4 separate regions of the Homo sapiens genome follow, and all the other regions are linked to region 3. Evidence: fine-mapped expression QTL. A gene starts in region 3. Each other region holds a variant in brackets. All regions are shown on one strand. Distances are from middle to middle.

Region 1 (4,650 bases), 22 kb after region 3:
TGAACTGTTCCAGGTCACACAACTTGTTAATATGTAATGATGGCTTATTGTGAATTATAGTCAATATCTTCTCTTCCATGAGTCCCCTTTTCATTATAACATTCCATCTTATAGAATAATAGATTTTTGCCAGGCACGGTGGCTCACACCTGTAATCCCAGCACTTTGGGAGGCTTAGGCAGGAAGATCACTTGAGCCCAGGAGTTCAAGACCAGCCTAGGCAACATAGCAAGACCCCATATCTATCAAAAATTTAAAAGATTAGCTAGGCATGGCTTCCTTAATCCTACCTATTCAGAAGGCTGAGGCAGGAGGATTGCTTGAGCCCAGGAGTTCAATGCTGTGGTGAACTATGTTCACACCACTGTACTCCAGCCTGGATGGCAGAGGGAGACCCTGTCTCTTAAAAAAAAAGAGATATCTTTCTATTATGGATCCTATTTCTTAAAAGTTAACTTAGTCCATTTCATAATACACTTGCCACATTTTAAAATTCTATTGAAGCCGGGCGCGGTGGCTCACACCTGTAATCCCAGCACTTTAGGAGGCTGAGGCGGGTGGATCACGAGGTTAGGAGATCCAGACCATCCTGGCTAACACAGTGAAACCCCATCTCTACTAAAAATACAAAAAATTAGCTGGGTGTGGTGGCAGGCGCCTGTAGTCCCAGCTACTCGAGAGACTGAGGCAGGAGAATGGCGTGAACCCGGGAGACAGAGCTTGCAGTGAGCCCAGATAGCGCCACTGCACTCCATCCAGCCTGGGTGACAGAGCAAGACTCCGTCTCAAAAAAAAAATTAAAAAAAAATAAAATTCTATTGAAAATGGTTTTGGTTGGTTTGTTTTATTTTGTTTTTGAGACAGAGTCTCACATTGTCGCCCAGGCTGTAGTGCAGTGTTGTGGTTTCAGCTCACTGCAACCTCCGCCTTCTACGTTCAAGCGATTCTCCTGCCTCAGCCTCCCAAGTAGCTGGGACTACACGCACACACCACCACGCCTGGCTAATTTTTTGTATTTTTAGTAGAAACGGGGTTTTGCCATGTTGCCCAGGCTGGTCCCAAACTCCTGAGCTCAGATAATCTACCCACGTCAGCCTCCCTAAGTGCTAGGATTACAGGCATGAGCCACTGCGTCCTGCCAAATGTTTTAAACTCATATCCAGTCATCTTACAGGGTTGGCTCCATAAAGGAAACAGTTTAATTTTCCTTAGAATTAGCATATTCTGGCTGGGTATGGTAGCTCACACCTGTAATCCCAGCACTTTGGGAAGCTAAGGTAGGCGGATTGCTTGAGCCCAGAAGTTTGAGACCAGCCTGGGCAACATAACAAGACCCTGTCTCTACAAAAAAAATACAAAAATTAGCCAGGCGTGGAGGTGCATGCCTGTAGTACCAGCTGCTTGGGAGGCTGAGGTGGGAGGATTGCTTGAGCCCAGGAGGTTGAGGCTGGCTATCATAGCACCACTACGCTCCAGCCTGGGTGACAGAGCAAGACCCTGTCTCAAAAAAAAAAAAATTATATTCTACAGTGGCATACCTGTAGTCTCAGTTACTCTGGGGACCAGCTGGGACTAGCTAGTCAGACTTTATCTCTTAAAAATAAAAGAATTATTATTATATTCCAGCCAGAGTTAAGTATGGACCTTGTCCCCTGACCTGTTAATAGAGATGTAAAGCTTCAGTTAATCTGACACCCAGAGGGTATCTCTATTGTTCTAGATGTAGTGATTGTTGGGCTAGGTGTCATGGCACGCACCTATATTCCCAGCTATTTGGGAGGCTAGGGCAGGAGGATTACTTGAGCCCAGGAGTGAGGCTGCAG[T/C]GAGCTATGATCATACAACTGCACTCCAACCTTGGCAACAGAGCAAGACTCTGTCTCTAAAAACAATAAATAAAAATAAAAAGATACAGTGATAGGTCTAGTGAAGACTCATATTCCATTGATGTTATCTTCCTTTTTTTTTTCTTTCTTCAGGATCTACAGTCTTTGCAGAAATTCAGGGGGTCATTGATGCTTGCATTAAACTATCTGGAATGCCTGATCTCTCCCTTTCTTTCATGGTAAGTTTTATTCTCCTGTTTTATAGCCCCTTGAATGCCTAATACATGTGAAGTACTAAATGAAATGATAAATATTGAGATAAGTTTGCATCTTAGATTGCAAAGGATTATCTCAGAAATATTCCTAGCAGAGTTTCCTAAGACAGTCGCTTACATGATGAGCGTGGTCTTTGTGGAAAGACTAAGGGAGGTCTTTGCCTGAGTGTGCTAGAAGGGGCTTAAAATTGGCTGGCTGGCTTCTGCAAATATCCAGTATCATTTTTACTGAATAATTATTTGCTTTGCTGATATGAAAGGACACTGGTCTTTTGTATCATTTTAGAGTCAGCATGATATACTGCTAGGAACAATTAAGAGAACTGACTTCTGGTGTTGTCACCAGTTTGCTCTGACCTTAAGTCCTCTGAACCTCAGTTTTTTAATCTGTTAAAGGGAAATAATACTACTTGCCTTTTCTCCTTTATAGTTATTGAAATTCAAATAAAATAATGTACATAAAATATTTACAAACTTTAAAGCATTATGAAACTATAAGGTTGTGTAGATGTGGTCATAAACTCTTCCATGACTGCTTTATCTTCAGGGAACATATTTGTCAAGGTATCTGAGTACAGTTCCCATATTCATTATAGTCTATGAACGACTGTCTTCTGTTTTTCTGGCAGAACCCTAGGCTTCTGGATGATGTCAGCTTTCACCCCTGCATCCGGTTCAAGCGTTGGGAATCTGAAAGAGTTTTGTCATTTATTCCTCCAGATGGAAATTTCCGACTCATATCATACCGTGTCAGCTCACAAAAGTATGTTGATGCATCAGCCAGAATCTGCCATCATACATATCAAGTACAACTCACCTTTCCCTGTTTCTTTCTGAAAGTTGAGTACTTGAGGTCATCACTGCTCACTTTAACCATAGCTCACCAGGAGACCCAGTGAGAACGGGTGAAAATACGCACCTAAAATAATCCGTATACTTTGAATGTATGAGTGTAGAGTGGTACTAAGTGAGACTAGAGTAAAATCTATAGCCAAGAACAAGCAAACCATACATAACCTGGGCAAAAATTGTGGTACCGGTCCTTTGCAAGGTTATGCATGGTCAAATTATGGCACTGGTTCTTTGCTCAGGTTATGCATGGTCCATTTTGCTCTGCTTCTGAAAGCTGAGTACTTTGCAAGCAGAGCAAAACGGACCATGCATAACCTGGGCAAAACCATGAACCATTGCCATAATCTTACCATAGTCTGTAGAGTTTGTGGCCAACAAGGAGACAGACCTACCTGTAGTTCGTGAGGACATTCCCCAATTTACCTGCTTCAAGTACGTCTTCTCTGCGTTGAGTTTTTAAGGAACTGTTTAGCATTGAGGGGCCGGGTGCAGTGGTTCACTCCTGTAATCCCAACACTTTGGGAGGCCAATGTGGGCAGATCACTTGGGGTCAAGAGTTCTAGACCAGTCTGGTCAACATGGTGAAACCCTGTCTCTACTAAAAACACAAAATTAGCCAGGCGTGGTAGCGTGTGCCTATATAATCTCAACTACTTAGGAGGCTGAGGCATGAGAATCACTTGAACCTGGAAGGCAGAGGTTGCAGTGACAGATCACACCACTGCACTACAGCCTGGCCAACAGGGTAAAACTCCATCTCAAAAAAAAAAAAAATTTAGCATTGGGGATCGGAGTTATAGGTAGTTTGTTTCTTGAAAATACCAAAAGTTATTTGAGTAACATCATGACAGAACTCAAAAACAGAGAAATTATTTCTCGGCTCTTTTCTTTTCCTTTTTTTTTTTTTTTTTTTTTTTTAAGCCGGAGTTTGGCTCTTGTTGCTCAGGCTGGAGTGCAATGGTGAAATCTCGGCTTACTGCAACCTCCACCTCCAGGGTTCAAGTGATTCTCCTGCCTCGGCCTCCCAAGTAGCTGGGATTACAGGCATGCACCACCACACCCGGCTAATTTTGTGTTTTTAGTAGAGGCGGGGTTATTCCATGTTGGTCAGACTGGTCTCGAACTCCAGACCTCAGGTGATCTGCCCACCTCAGCCTCCCAAAGTGCTGGGATTACAGGCGTGAGCCACCGTGCCTGGCCTGTTTCTTGGCTCTTATCACATAGGAACTGTTTTCATTTATATAAAACATATTTTACATTATTTTTCAGTGGGATCATAATTCATTTTAAACTAGGGCCATTTGCCCCAATTGTTTTTGTTTGTTTGTTTTATGTTATTTTGTTTTGTTTGTTTGTTTTGAGACGGAGTTTCACTATTGTCACCCAGGCTGGAGTGCAATGGTGTGATCTTGGCTCACTGCAACCTCTACCTCCTGGGTTCAAGCGATTCTCCTGCCTCAGCCTCCCAAGTAGCTGGGATTACAGGCACCTGCCACCGCGCCCAGCTAATTTTTGTTTTTTGTTATTTTTTTTTTTTATTAGAGAGGGGATTTCACCATGTTGGCCAGGCTGGTCTCAAACTCCTGACCTCCAGTGATCTGCCTGCCTTGGCCTCCCAAAGTGCTGGGATTACAGGTGTGAGCCACTGCACCCAGCCACCCCAATTGTTTATACTGTTATTAAACTTCAGATTTCTGTCT
Region 2 (4,650 bases), 150 kb before region 3:
AGTATACAGACATACAATATTACTTTTACATTACTGCTAATACAACTCTCATTTTGACAATACCTTTTTTTTTTTTTGAGACAAGAGTTTCACTCTTGTTGCCCAGGCTGGAGTGCAATGGTGCGATCTCAGCTCACTGCAACCTCCACCTCCCGGGTTCAAGCGATTCTCCTGCCTCAGCCTCCCTAATAGCTGAGATTACAGGCACCAGCCACCACACCCAGCTAATTTTTTATATTTTTAGTAGAGACGGGTTTTCACTATGTTGGCCAGGCTGGTCTCGAACTCCTGACTTCAGGTGATCCACCCGCCTCAGCCTCCCAAAGTGCTGGGATTACAGGCGTTAGCCACTGCACCCAGCTTGATATTTTAAAAGCAAGGACTTTGAAAATTTATCAGTGTAGAAGCTTTATCTTGTGCATGCCTTTCTAGCAAAAAAAAAAAAAAAAAAAAAAAAAACAACATTAAAACCAATATGAAAAGTGTTTAGATACTGGAGATACTTTCTTTCATCTTCCAAATACTACAAATAAAGAAAACCACAAGTTTGCTGAAGTTTAAAACATCTGGGGAATATCTTAATATACTCATTTTTAAGAGCTCCATATTAAAGAATAGCCTGAAGGGTAGATGATAAATCTGCTCTAAAACTGAAAGTGTGTTTTTAATCCTATTGAATAGAAACAGGTTTCTTTCTTAAATGGGGGAACTATAATCCAGATGCAAAGTGCCAAAAGACAAAATATTCCATAAAAGGAAACTTTAAAAATATAGACTAGCGTTCAATTTTAAAATAAGCACAAGAGTATGTTTTTACTGAGATATTAACAACTATAAGTGTCAATAATCCTTTTGTAACTGCTAACTGAAAAATACATAGGTGATTATCTCATTATTGTGTTTCATATCTTCTGAACAGGTTATAAATATACTTTTGTAAAAGATGTCCCCAGCTGTAAACTCTCATAGGACAAACAAAAAACTGAAGATGCATCTTTATTATGCATAAAGTTAATATTAATGCAAAAGTATGTTTCATAACAATATCATTTGCCAAAATATACATTACAGAGAAATGATTATCAAGGCATGGTACATGAGATCCTTAAATTCATATTTCCCACAGAATTTAAAATAAAACTGCCTGCCATGCTTATGAATTTGAAGAAATTATTCCTGGGTTGTTTTTTTTTAAACAAAAACTCACACTAGACTCAGTAAAATGTGGAATATAAATTCGTTTCCTTTTTTTGAGACAGGCTCTCCCTCTGTAATGGAGGCTGGAGTGCAGTGGCACGATTTGGGTTCACTGCAACTTCCGCCTCCCAGGCTCAAGCCAACCTCCTACCTCAGTGCCACAAGTAGCTGGGACCATAGGCATGCAGCACTATAACCAGCTCATTTTAAAATATTTTTGTTAAGAGACGAGGTTTTGCCAAGTTGCTCCGGCTGGTTTTGAACTCCTGGACTCAAGTGAGCCATCTGCCTTGGCCTCCCAAAGTGCTGAGATTATAGGCATGAGCCACTGTGCCCAGCCTGGAATATAAATTCTTTCCAGTACAAACTGGACTTCAAAAGTAAAGCACTCTGAGAAAACCATCAACAGTCCATTTGAAAGCAAAAACAGGCTGGGGGCAGTGGCTCATGCCTATAATCCTAGCACTTTGGGAGGCTGAGGTGGGCTGATTGCCTGAGCTCAGGAGTTTGAAACTAGCCCAGGGAACATGGTGAAACCCCATCTCTACTAAAATACAAAAAATTAGCCAGGCATGGTGGTCCCACCTGTAACTACTCAGGAGGCTGAGGTGGAAGAATCGCTTGAACCCGGGAGGTAGGGGTTGCAGCGAGCCAAGATCACGCCACTGCACCCCAGCCTGGTCGACAGAGCAAGACTCCATCTCAAAAAAAAAAAAAAAAAAAAAAAAAAAAAAAAAAAAACAAACAAACAAAAAAAAAACAGAAAAGAAAAGAAAGCAAAAATAAGCTTTAAAAAAAGGTAAAAATACAAAGCCCTGAATTCCAAAGTCATTCAGTTACTATAGGAGAAAAGTGTTGCAGGATAAGGGTACAGGACACACTCTGCTGATATTTAATTGCAGGTGAATCTCTTTTGTAACACTTCAAACATTTAAATTACATTATGAAGACAACTAACTTTTCTAAATTTGAGTATTTTTAGTATTTTCGAAATGCAAGAACTTTAAAATGCTAATAAAGGATACTCAACCCAATGCATAACTGGTTTCTAATTAGACATCTATTATTCTTTTAGAAGAAGATGAGGGTCAGAAAGCTTTCTTTGTAAAAGGCCAGGTAGTAAATAGTTTGGGCTCTATGGGTAATGAGAAAAAAACCAAGGACATTATCTAGGTACTTATAAAACAAAAAACTTTTACTGACAAATTTAGGAATATTAATAACAATAAAATTTTTTGTTTATCAGGTTTAGTAATGAGAAGAATGTAATTCTTTTAGGGGAAATAACATTTCATTTAATTGGTGTTTAAAGTTACTTTTTTTTTTTTTTTTTTTTTGAGACAGAGTCTCATTCTGTCACCCAGGCTGGAGTGCAGTGGTGCAATCTGGGCTCACCGCAACCTCCGCCTCCCGGGTTCAAGCGTTTCTCCTGTCTTAGCCTCCCGAGAAGCTGAGACTACAGGCGCACGCCACCACGCCCAGCTAATTTTTTGTATTTTTAGTAGAGATGGGGATTAACCATATTGGCCAGACTGGTCTTGAACTCCTGACCTCATGATCCACCTGCCTCGGCCTCCCAAAGTGCTGAGATTACAGGTGTGAGCCACTGTGCCTGGCCAAAGTTACTGTTATCAATCAAAATTGAT[C/T]GCAAATATTCATCTGTTAACATTGATCTATAATAATTTCACATATTTCAACTTTGAATGTCTCTATATACAAATAGATACTCCCAAATACTGATATAAATCCAATAGCATATGATTTAAATTAAGCATATTTATCACTTAGAAAGCATTTATAGAATTCTATCAGAGCTTTTTCTTGATATTTCCCCTTTAGCATGTAGATTGCAGATTAATCACTTCTAATGTAACATAAGGTAGAAGCTCCGTGATTGCAGTGTTAGATGGATTTTGAAATAAAGAAGTTATCTCTGCTCTGGCATCAATATTGCTAAAACTATAGTTTGAGCCCACAAACATCTGCTACAAATGTGTGTGGAAATAGAAGTATCACTTCTTGTTTTAACTTTTGACAGAATGGGACATTGTATATAAAGCAGCTTGACATTACTTGTGATTCAAACTACATTAGCTGCTGTCAAATAACTTTACCATAGTATAAGTTTTACATATAAGCACTGGTATGCCTCAAAATTAAGAAACCATATAAAGGCTGCCACAGTGGCTCACACCTGTAATCCCAGCACTATGGGAAGCCAAAGTGAGTGGATAGCTTGACATTAGGAGTTTGAGACCAGGCTGGTCAACATGGTGAAATCCTGTCTCTACTAAAAATACAAAAAGCTTAGCTGGGCATGGTGGCATGAGGCTGTAGTCCCAGCTACTTGGGAGGCTGAGGTAGGAGAATTGCTTGAACCAGGGAGGTGGAAGTTGCAGTGAGCCAAGACAGCACCACCGCACTCCAGCCTGCGTGACAGAGTGAAACCCTGTTGAGAAAAGAGAAAAGAGACAAAGAAGAAAGAAAGAAAGGAAGGAAGGAAGGAAGGAAGGAAGGAAGGAAGGAAGGAAGGAAGGAAAGAAGGAAGGAAGGAAGGAAGGAAGGAAGGAAGGAAGGAAGGAAGGAAGGAAACAAGGAGAGAGAGAGAGAGAGAAAGAAAGAAACAAACAACAACAATATCAGTATCATTAAGAAATAATGTATTAGCCAGGGACATGATGGCTCACACCTATAATCCCAACACTTTGGGAGCTTGAGGCAGGAGGATCACATGAGTCCAGGAGTTCAAGACCAACCTGGAGAACATAGCAAGATCCTGTTTCTAAAAAAAAAAAAAAGAAGACGAAGAAGAAGAAAGAAAAGAAACAATATAAAGTCTTCAGTAAAAGCTAATTTTCAAAGCCATTTCATATGCAATAACAGTAGTTGAAGGAGCTTCTCCTTGTTTAGAAAAATTTGAATCTTGACCATAAGCTCAAACAACTGCAGTAATCAAACTGATGGGTGGTCAGGCAAGTCAAATATACAGCTTAAATTTCTGATAAAAACTTACAGAACTATCTCTTCATACAGCAAATGAAGTTCACTGTTGATAATACTGGTTCAATAATAAATGATATTCAAATAATAAATCATAGATTCAAATGTTGTCTACAAAATAGCTGCTAATAAATAATACAATGAATAGCCATAGGCTTTACAACCTTATAGTTTCACAAACTTTGTAGATTTCTCCAATTAACCCTTTTTTCTGATCCATATATATGTATAATGTATATTTAAAATATATATGGAGCAAAAAGGTTAAGTGGAGAAATCTACAAAGTTTATGATATAAATATGTATTTTAATATATTTTATATATATATATATATTTCTTTTTTTTTTTTTGAGACAGAGTCTTGCTGTGTCACCCAGGCTGGAGTGCAATGGCATCATCTCAGCTCACTGTATCCTCCACCTCCCAGGTTCGAGCAGTTCTCCTGCCTCAGC
Region 3 (4,000 bases):
AGATAATTCTTTGTTGTGGGGGTTGTCCTATGTAGCATGTTTAGCAGCACCCCTGAATTCCATCCACTAGGTGCCAATAGCTCTCCCTACCAAAAATATCTTTCTAGACCACGCCAAATGTCCCCTGGAGGGCAAAATTTCCCCTGGTGGAGAATTATTATCCCAGAGCTGACCAAATTCTCACAAATCCCTAAATCTAAATATTTTTCCTGACATCTACAAATATATCTCATTATTTGTTCCCACTGATGCTGCACATTAAATTATGCAAAGTCTTTATAATCCATTCTCCTTAACCAAAACCAGTAGCAATCCCCTGTCAAGCAAGTCATCATAAATTCAGTGTAAATACTCAATGCATTATCACACTTTGAGTCTGAAAGCAAATTAATATAATAAAAGTAATAATAGCCGATCCTAAAATGTCTCCCCACAAAATTAGAGATTTGTCCCAGTACTCAAGTGTCTAATCTTTTAACTTCATGTCTACAGGTGGCACTAAATTCATATTGTATAAAGTGAATTTTAGTTGCCTAAGGAATGCTCTCACCACAGCCTCACAAAGCACCAGGACTGCAGGTATAAGAAAACATGCTCAGCTAGTTCCTATTTCTGTTCCTGTACTAATTGTTTTATTTGGGCTTCAATATCTTCAATTGTAAAATAGGCATAATTCTTGCCTTCCTTTGATCACAGAACTGTCCAACAAGATAATAAATAGGAAAACACAGTGAAAATGGATCAGCATTATATATAATAATTTTTATTAAGGAAAAATCTAAGGAAATCTAAGGGTTATATGTTCAGTAGGATGGTAGGGAAAAGTTGCATCTGTCTTCCAGTTTGGCGAAGGAGGTGCCTTATAAGGAAATACTCTAATAAAGGGCAGAGTAGGGAAAGCACATGCCTTGAACTCAGGTAGGTCTGATTCAAAAGCCGTTGCTTTTTATTCTGCATATAGTTGGAATATTTAAAATAAAAATAGAATATCCTGAGGGTTTTTATTTTAAAGTTTATGTTCTTGGTATAAGGTAGGCACACTAACCCTTTGAGGGTAGTAGGAATACATTAAAGGAACTGGCAAGGATTTGTTCACCCTCCATTCAAAGCAGCATGAACACACCACCAGGCCCCTAAGTGTCCTTTTCTTTTCAATTGTGAGTGATTCCTTCCTTTGGAGGTGAAGAAGAGTGATACTGGAAGAAATGGGATATGTCCTGTTTAATCAGGAGTGTCCTAATAGTTTTAAATCAGTTTGATATGTCTATTTTAAGATGGAAAAAAAAATCGCTGCCTTTCAGCGAACATTTCCAAATCATCAAAGACTGCCTGCTTCACTTTATACTTATTAGGAAGGGATATTTTAACAAATGACTCTTCATAAGTAAAAGTTGCAACATCAATCACATGTGAGGCAGGTGTTAGGGGCAGCACTGTCCCCGTTGCTGCCAAAAAGTGTAAATAAAAAAGAGAAATCAACCTTTCCTATCCATTCATCCAAATGCTGCCCCTGCAAAGCATCGGAGGGGTCTGGGTCCCTGGTAGAGGGTCCTCAAAGGTACGGGCTTTCAGAATGTGCACGAAAAGGAAGGTCAACGTGCCCTTCCGCAACACTCTGAAAAATCCCCAAGAATTCTGACTTTGCCCCAGTGTACAGCAGTTGCCGAGCCTCTTTCCCGCCATCCCCCGGGAAGAGAAGGCGGCCGCCTACAGACGCTGCTCCGGTCCGACCCTCCGGGGTCGCACCAGCCCAGCCTGGGCTTGCTCGCAGGTGGCGCGGTCAGCCAGCTCGGTCCCCCTGCGGGCCACGACTGGCGAAGGGCTGCTGGAGCCGGAGCTGCACCAGACAGGCGGGGACTCAGCCAAACGGAGAGAACGTCTGGCAAGGGGTCGCGGCCAAGCGGGCAGCTGGGGGAGGTCCTGCGTGTTGGCCCCAAGCTGGCAGTGAGAGACACCACCCAGCGTCGGGGCCGTGCAACCCCACGTGGGCCCTGGCTTGCTTGCAGCGCCGTCACCCTCCTCCCCAAGTCCGGCAGCGCTCACCTCAGCGCTTGCGGCGCCTCCACCTTCAGCTTTTTGGGCTTCGGCTCCTCCTCAGCAGCTGCCATCTTCGCGCTCCCACCCCACTTTGGCTCTACAGCCCACCTCTGCCATCCACTCTCTGGTCCCGCCCCCTCTTCGCATCACCGCTTTCTCTTCTCCAAATCCCGCCCCTCCAGACTCCGCCCATTCTGTGCCGCTGTCATCCACAATCATTGGCTCTATCCGTCGGCACCAACAGCGAATGCCCCGCCCATTCCTGACCCCGCCTCCCCTACCATGAGGGACCCCAGACTGCGTTAGGCAGCAGATGACCGCCTGAATCTAGATGGAGAGAAACCCACCATTTTTCTAGGCCCTGGATTATGTAGAAGATTTAGATACTAAGCCTCAAGAGACGTCTTTCCTCTCATTTACGGTCTTCCTGCATATTTAAAATTTCTAATACGGTAGACAGAGTCGGTGTCTTTGAAGCTGTTAATCAGGCAATTTCCTGGGCACTCCAGCTGCGGGTCCTCGCGGCCTTCTCGGCTTCTCCAGCTTCGGTAGGAGAGGATCCGGCGCCGAATCACTGACTGGCACAGGTGTTGGGGTGAGTGTGAGGGGCGGGAAATCTGTGGACTGGGGACAGCTCCAAAACCCGGGAGTAGGCTGAATAGCTGGGGCCCCCGACTCCGATCTGGGCTCTAGGAGCGTCTTTGGTGCTGTTGGCCCGGGCCTCGCTTCCCCCCCACTCCCGGCCTTCCGGGCTTTCTCGCCAGCAAGGCCAGAAGGGAGCGGTCCACCTGCAGCCCAGTGTTCTCAGGCGCCTGAGCCCCGGAGGTCAAGCTTACTGGGTTCCCCCTCTATAGTGAGCTGGAGTACAGACGGCAGGAATCTCAGTCCCAGGTTTCTGCTTTGGAGGACAAAACCCCAAACGGACCTGAGCAGACGTCCTGTTAGCGGGTGGTGCCTGGAAGAGCCTGGGGTGAGGAATGCAGTGAGAAGGGTGTTGCAGTTCTTCAGGAGAGAGGTAACGGGGTTCTAAGCTGAGCAGGTGGCAGTGAGTGTGGAAGAGTGACGGGCGATGTGGCTGTTTGTATTTGGTAGATTTGTTTGAACCTGAAACTTACAGCCTTATGTGTGATTAAGAAGATGGTGCCAGTGACAGGAGGAGGTATTTTATGGAGTTTGAGTTTTATCGAATTTGAAACAGTGGTTTACATGGAGATTGTAGAAAGACTTTAAAAAAAATTATGAGAATTAAGCCCGAAAGACTTTCAAGGTGAGACCCAAAACAGATGAAGTTTCATATAAAAGGGTAAGAAGTATTTTTGTTTAGGAGAAAGTTATCAATGACATAAAATGCTGCAATGGTCAGAGGAGGAAGCTGAAATCAGAATAGGTCGTTGGATTTTATAATTAGAAAGTCATTGAGCTGTTTGAGAGAGATGCTTTAATAGTAACTGAGGAAAGACTGCAAGTGTAGACCAATCCTTCATCATTTGGGGCATGAAGCAAGATTATTGAGAGTGGCAAGGTGGGGGAAAGTTTGGGGTTTGTTTTAAAGAATACAAGATATCTATTTGGGGGCAGGAAGCAAGCAACTATTTGAAGATTCAAGAAAAAGTCTTGTCTCCCAGAAGAGAAGGAAAGGAATGGGATCAAGTTACAAGTGAAAGGATTAATTTGGGAAAGACAGAGGGACACTTTCAATTGACACTATAGGAGAAGTGAAGTGAATGAGGTTAATGAAGAATTATCTTAATTTACGAATCTTGGCCAGGCGCGGTGGCTCACGCCTGTAATCTCAGCACTTTGGCAGGCTGAAGCGGGCGGATCACAAAGTCAGGAGTTCGAGACCAACCTGGCCAACATAGTGAAACCCTGTCTCTACTAAAAATACAAAAATTAGCCAGGTGTGGTGGCACACGCCTGTAGTCCCAGCTACTTGGTAGGCTGAGGCAGGAGAATCCCTTGA
Region 4 (4,650 bases), 580 kb before region 3:
GAGACAGAGTCTCACCCTGTCACCCAGGCTGGAGTGCAGTGGTGCGATCTCAGCTCACTGCAACCTCTGCCTCCCAGGTTCAAGCAATTCTCCTGCCTCAGCCTCCCAAGTAGCTGGGATTACAGGCACCCATCACCATGCCTGGCTAATTTTTGTATTTTTAGTAGAGACGGGGTTTCACCATGTTGGCCAGGCTGGTCTTGAACTCCTGACCTCAGGTGATCTGCCCACCTTGGCCTCCCAAAGTGCTGGGATTATAGGCGTAAGCCACTGCTCCCAGCCAAGTTCTTCATTTCTATCTGATACCTCCTCAGCCTGGCCTTCACAGTCCACATTTCTATCAGCATTTTGGACACAATCATTTAACCAATCTCTGATAAGTTCCAAACTTCCCCTTGTCTTCCTGTCTTCTTCTGAGCCCTCCAAACTCTTCCAACCTCTGCTCATTACACAGTTCCAAAGCCACTTCCACATCCTCAGGTATCTTTATAGCAACATCACACTCCTGGTATCAATGTTCTGTGTTAGTCTGTTTTGCATTGCTAGGGAAGAAATGCCTTCTGGGTCTTTTCCCTATTGTCTTGAATATTAGCACCTAATAATATTTATAATATTTATTATTTATAAATAATAAATATTTATATTTATAATAAAATTATAATAAAGGGAGCCTTGAATAAAGGCCTTTATTATAAATTTATAAAGACTGGGTAATTTGGCCAGGTGCGGTGGCTCATGCCTGTAATCCCAGCACTCTGGGAGGCTGAGGTGGGTGGATCACTTGAGGTCAGGAGTTTGAGGCCACCCTGGCCAATATGGCGAAACTCTGTCTCTACTAAAAATACAAAAATTAGGTAGGTGTGGTGGCTCACGCCTGTAGTCCCAACTACTCGAGAGGCTGAGAGGCAGGAGAATTGCTTGAACCTGCTGAGTGCAGTGGTGCGGAGATCGTGCCACTGCACTCCAGCCTGAGCGACAGAGTGAGACTCCATCTCAAAAAAAAAAAAAAAAGACTGGGTAATTTATAATTATCAAAGACTGGGTAACTTATAAAGAAAAGAAGTTTATTTGGCTCACGGTTCTGTAGGCTGTACAAACATGGCACCGTCATCTGCTCAGCTTATGGTGAAGCCTCTGGAAAGTTTTTTTTTTTTTTTTTTTTTTGAAACAGAGTCTCGCTCTGTCACCCAGGCTGGAGTGCAGTGGCACAATCTTGGCTCACTGCAACCTCTGCCTCCTGGGTTCAAGAGATTCTCCTGCCTTAGCCACTCAAGTAGCTGAGACTACCCATGCATGCCACAATGCCTAGCTAATTTTCGTATTTTTAGTAGAGACAGGGTTTCACCATGTTGGCCAGGCTGGTGTCGAACTCCTGACCTCAAGTGATCTGCCCACTGTGGCCTCCCAAAGTGCTGGGATTAAAGGTGTGAGCCACCATGCCTGGCCAGCCTCAGAAAGATTTTACTCATGGCAGGAAGAAAAGAAAAGAGGGAGTAGGTGTGTCACATAGTGACAGAGAGAGCAAGAGAGAGATGCCAAGCTCTTTTAAACAATCAGCTCTTGTGTGACCTAATACAGCAAAAACTCACTCATTACCGCAGAAGGGCACCAAGCCACTCAGGAGGGATCCACCCCTGTGACCCAAACACCTTTCACTAGGCCCCACCTCCAACACTGGAGATCACATTTCAACATGAGATTCAGAGGGAATAAATATCCAAACCACATCAGCATCTATAGATCAATTTGGGGACAATTGATATCTTAACATTGTTGAGTCTTCTGACCCATGAACAAGGCATATCTAGTTTTTTTTTTATACAGGGTTTCACTCTGTCACCCAAGCTGGAGTGCAGTGGCTTGATCATGGCTCACTGCAGTCTCGACCTCCCACATGCCTGTAGTCCCAGCTACTTGGGAGGCTAAGATGGGCTCAGGTGATCCTCCCATCTCAGCCTCCCAAGTAGCTGGGGCTACAGGCGTGTGTCACCATACCTGGCTAAATATATATATATATATATATATATATTTTTTTTTTTT[TTTG/G]TAGAGACGGGGTTTGCCATGTTGCCCAGGCTGGTCTTGAACTCCTGGGCTCAAGAGATCTGCCCACCTCAGCCTCCTAAGGTGTTGGGATTACAGGCGTGAGCCACTGTGCCCAGACTATTTATTTATTTAGATATTATTTAATTTCTTTCAGCAATATTTTATGGTTTCCAGTTAGAGGACTTCTACGTATTTTGTATTTTGTATTTTACGTATTTTATATTTTTGATGCTATTACAAATGGCATTTTACTAATTTGATAAATTAATAAATGTATGAATTTTCACTGTTAGCATATAGAAATATAATTAATTTTTGTGTATTATCTTGTATCCTTCAACCTTGCTAAACTTGCCTATTAGTTCTAGTTGCTTTTTTCTGGGTTCCTTTAGATTTCTACATAGACAGTCACGTTGTGTGAAAATTGAGACAATTTTACTTCTTCAATTTAGCTGGTTTTTTTTCTTTTTTTTTCTGCCTGATGGAATGGCCAGGACTTCCAGCACAACGTTGAATAGAAAAGGGGAGAGAAGGTGTCTTGTTCCTAGTCTTAGGGAAAACTATTCAGTCTTTCACCACTAAGTGTGATAGTAGCTGTGGGGTTTTTGTAGATGTCCATAATTATGTTGAGGATATCCCTTTCTATTCCAGATTTATTTAGTTTTTATTAGGAATGAATATTGGATTTTGTCAAACGCTTTTCTGTGTCTATCAAGATAATCATATGGTTTTCTTTTTTACTTTGTTAATATGGTGAATTATAATGAATGATTTTTCTTTTAGAGATGGTATCTTTTGTTGTTGTTGCCCAGGCTGGCCTTGAACTCCTGGGCTCAAATGATCCTCCCACCTTAGCCTCCTGAGTAGCTTGGACTACAGGCATAAACGACTGCAACTTGCTCAATTATTGATTTTGAATATTTTATTTACTTAGAAATGGAGTCTTGCTACATTGCTCAGACTGGTCTTAAACTCTCAGCCTCAAGATATGCTCCCAGCGTTGGGATTACAAGTGAGAGCTGCCACATCTGGCCCGATTTTGAAGATTAAACTAGCCCTGTATTCCTGGGATAAACTCCACTTGATCATGATATGTTAACTTTTTTTTTTTTTTTTTTTTTTTTTTTTGAGACAGGGATTCCAGAGTATTTTCTTCTAATGTGTTAATCTGGTTTTGGTTCTAGCCTCAAATAATGAGTTGGAAAGAATTATGTTTTCTTTAATTTATTTTGGAAGAGTATACGTAGAATTGGATTCTTTCTTCCTTAAATGTTTGGTAGACTTCATGAGTAAAGCCATATGGGCCTGAAGGTATTTTTGTAGGAATGCTTTCAACTTTACAAATTCAATTTCTTTAAGATATACAGAGCAACTCCTGCCATCTTTTTGTTTGTTTCTAAGTAATTGTTATTGAGATATAATTAATATACCATAAAACTCAACTTTTAAAGTGTACAATTTAGTTATTTTTAATATATTCAGGTTGTAAAACCACCACCACTAATTCCAGAATATTTCACTACCATCAACCCACCAAGAAGAAACTCCATAACCATTAATAGTCACTCCTCATTTCTCCCATTCTCCCAGTTCCTGGTAATCACTCATCTGCTTTTTCTCTGTGATTCAGATTAATACCAACTTAGTTCCAATAGTATATAAAATATTTGCTCCTATATTGCTTCACCTCCCTCTTTATGCTTTTATTGTCACAAATTATATCTTTATAGGTTATATGCAAATATTTATAATTATTGCTTTATGCAGTTGCCTTTTAAACCAGATAAGAAAGAAGAATTACAATAATAATATGTAAACATTGTCTTCTATATTTACTTATGTGGTTACCCTGACTAGTGTTCTTTTCTTTTCTATTCTTTTTTTGAGACAGAGTTTTGCTCTTTCGCCCAGGCTGGAGTGCAGTGGCGTGATCTCAGCTCGCTGCAACCTCTGTTCCCCGGATTCAAGCAATTCTCCTGCCTCAGCCTCCTGAGTAGCTGGGATTACAGGCATGCACCACCACGCCCGGCTGATTTTTGTATTTTTAGTAGAGATGGGGTTTCACCACATTGGCCAGGCTCATCTCAAACTTGTGGCCTCAGGTGATCAGGCCGCCTCGGCCTCCCAAAGTGCTAGGATTACAGGCATGAGCCATCGCGCCCCGCCTGACGAGTGTTCTTTATTTCTCTGTGTGGATTTGAATTATTGTCTAGTGTCCCTTCATTTCAGCCCAGAGGATGCCACTTAGCATATCTTTTAGAGAAGTTTCTTCAATAAACTCCCTCAGCTTTTGTTTATCTAGGAATATCTCAATTTCTTCATTTTTGAAGGATATTTTTGTTGGATTCTTGGTTAATTTTTTTCTGTCAGAGATTTAAATATGACACCCCACAGCCTTCTTTTAAAATAGACTTGATTTTTTAGAGCAGTTTTACAATTTTCACAGCAAAATTGAGCAGAAAATTTCAGGAGTTCCCATATACCTCTGGACTCCCAACGGGCACAGCCTCCTCTACTACGTCTCCTCTACTACCAACGTCCTGCACAAAAGTGGTATATTTGTTACAGTCAGTGAACCTACAATGACACATCATTATCCCTCCAAAT

The links. PIP is the estimated chance that this variant, and not a neighbour inherited with it, causes the effect. A credible set is the group of variants that fine-mapping cannot tell apart.
Region 1: its variant is the best candidate, but not a certain one, in a credible set for the expression of ADK in transverse colon (GTEx, PIP 0.58).
Region 2: its variant is the best candidate, but not a certain one, in a credible set for the expression of ADK in whole blood (INTERVAL, PIP 0.81).
Region 4: its variant is the best candidate, but not a certain one, in a credible set for the expression of ADK in monocytes (Fairfax 2014, PIP 0.52).

What each region holds. Positions count from the first base shown.
Region 1 is chr10:74,127,319-74,131,968 of GRCh38, reverse strand. AP3M1 (adaptor related protein complex 3 subunit mu 1) reads left to right here. Exons shown (of 9, transcript NM_012095.6): 5 at 1,977-2,062; 6 at 2,728-2,861. Among named protein-coding and RNA genes, the nearest start is that of AP3M1, 21 kb to the left of the region's middle. The variant T/C (reference allele first, on the strand shown) is at 1,824.
Region 2 is chr10:74,299,398-74,304,047 of GRCh38, reverse strand. The region is part of intron 3 of ADK (adenosine kinase); the gene reads right to left. Among named protein-coding and RNA genes, the nearest start is that of ADK, 150 kb to the right of the region's middle. The variant C/T (reference allele first, on the strand shown) is at 2,844.
Region 3 is chr10:74,149,387-74,153,386 of GRCh38, reverse strand. It overlaps ADK (adenosine kinase), which reads right to left and starts at 2,166. Exons shown (of 11, transcript NM_006721.4): 1 at 2,044-2,166. The coding sequence starts at 2,108. AP3M1 (adaptor related protein complex 3 subunit mu 1) reads left to right here and starts at 2,559. Exons shown (of 9, transcript NM_012095.6): 1 at 2,559-2,632. RefSeq lists enhancers at 1,816-1,995, 2,406-2,635.
Region 4 is chr10:74,725,345-74,729,994 of GRCh38, reverse strand. No RefSeq gene overlaps it. Among named protein-coding and RNA genes, the nearest start is that of KAT6B, 99 kb to the left of the region's middle. The variant TTTG/G (reference allele first, on the strand shown) is at 2,041.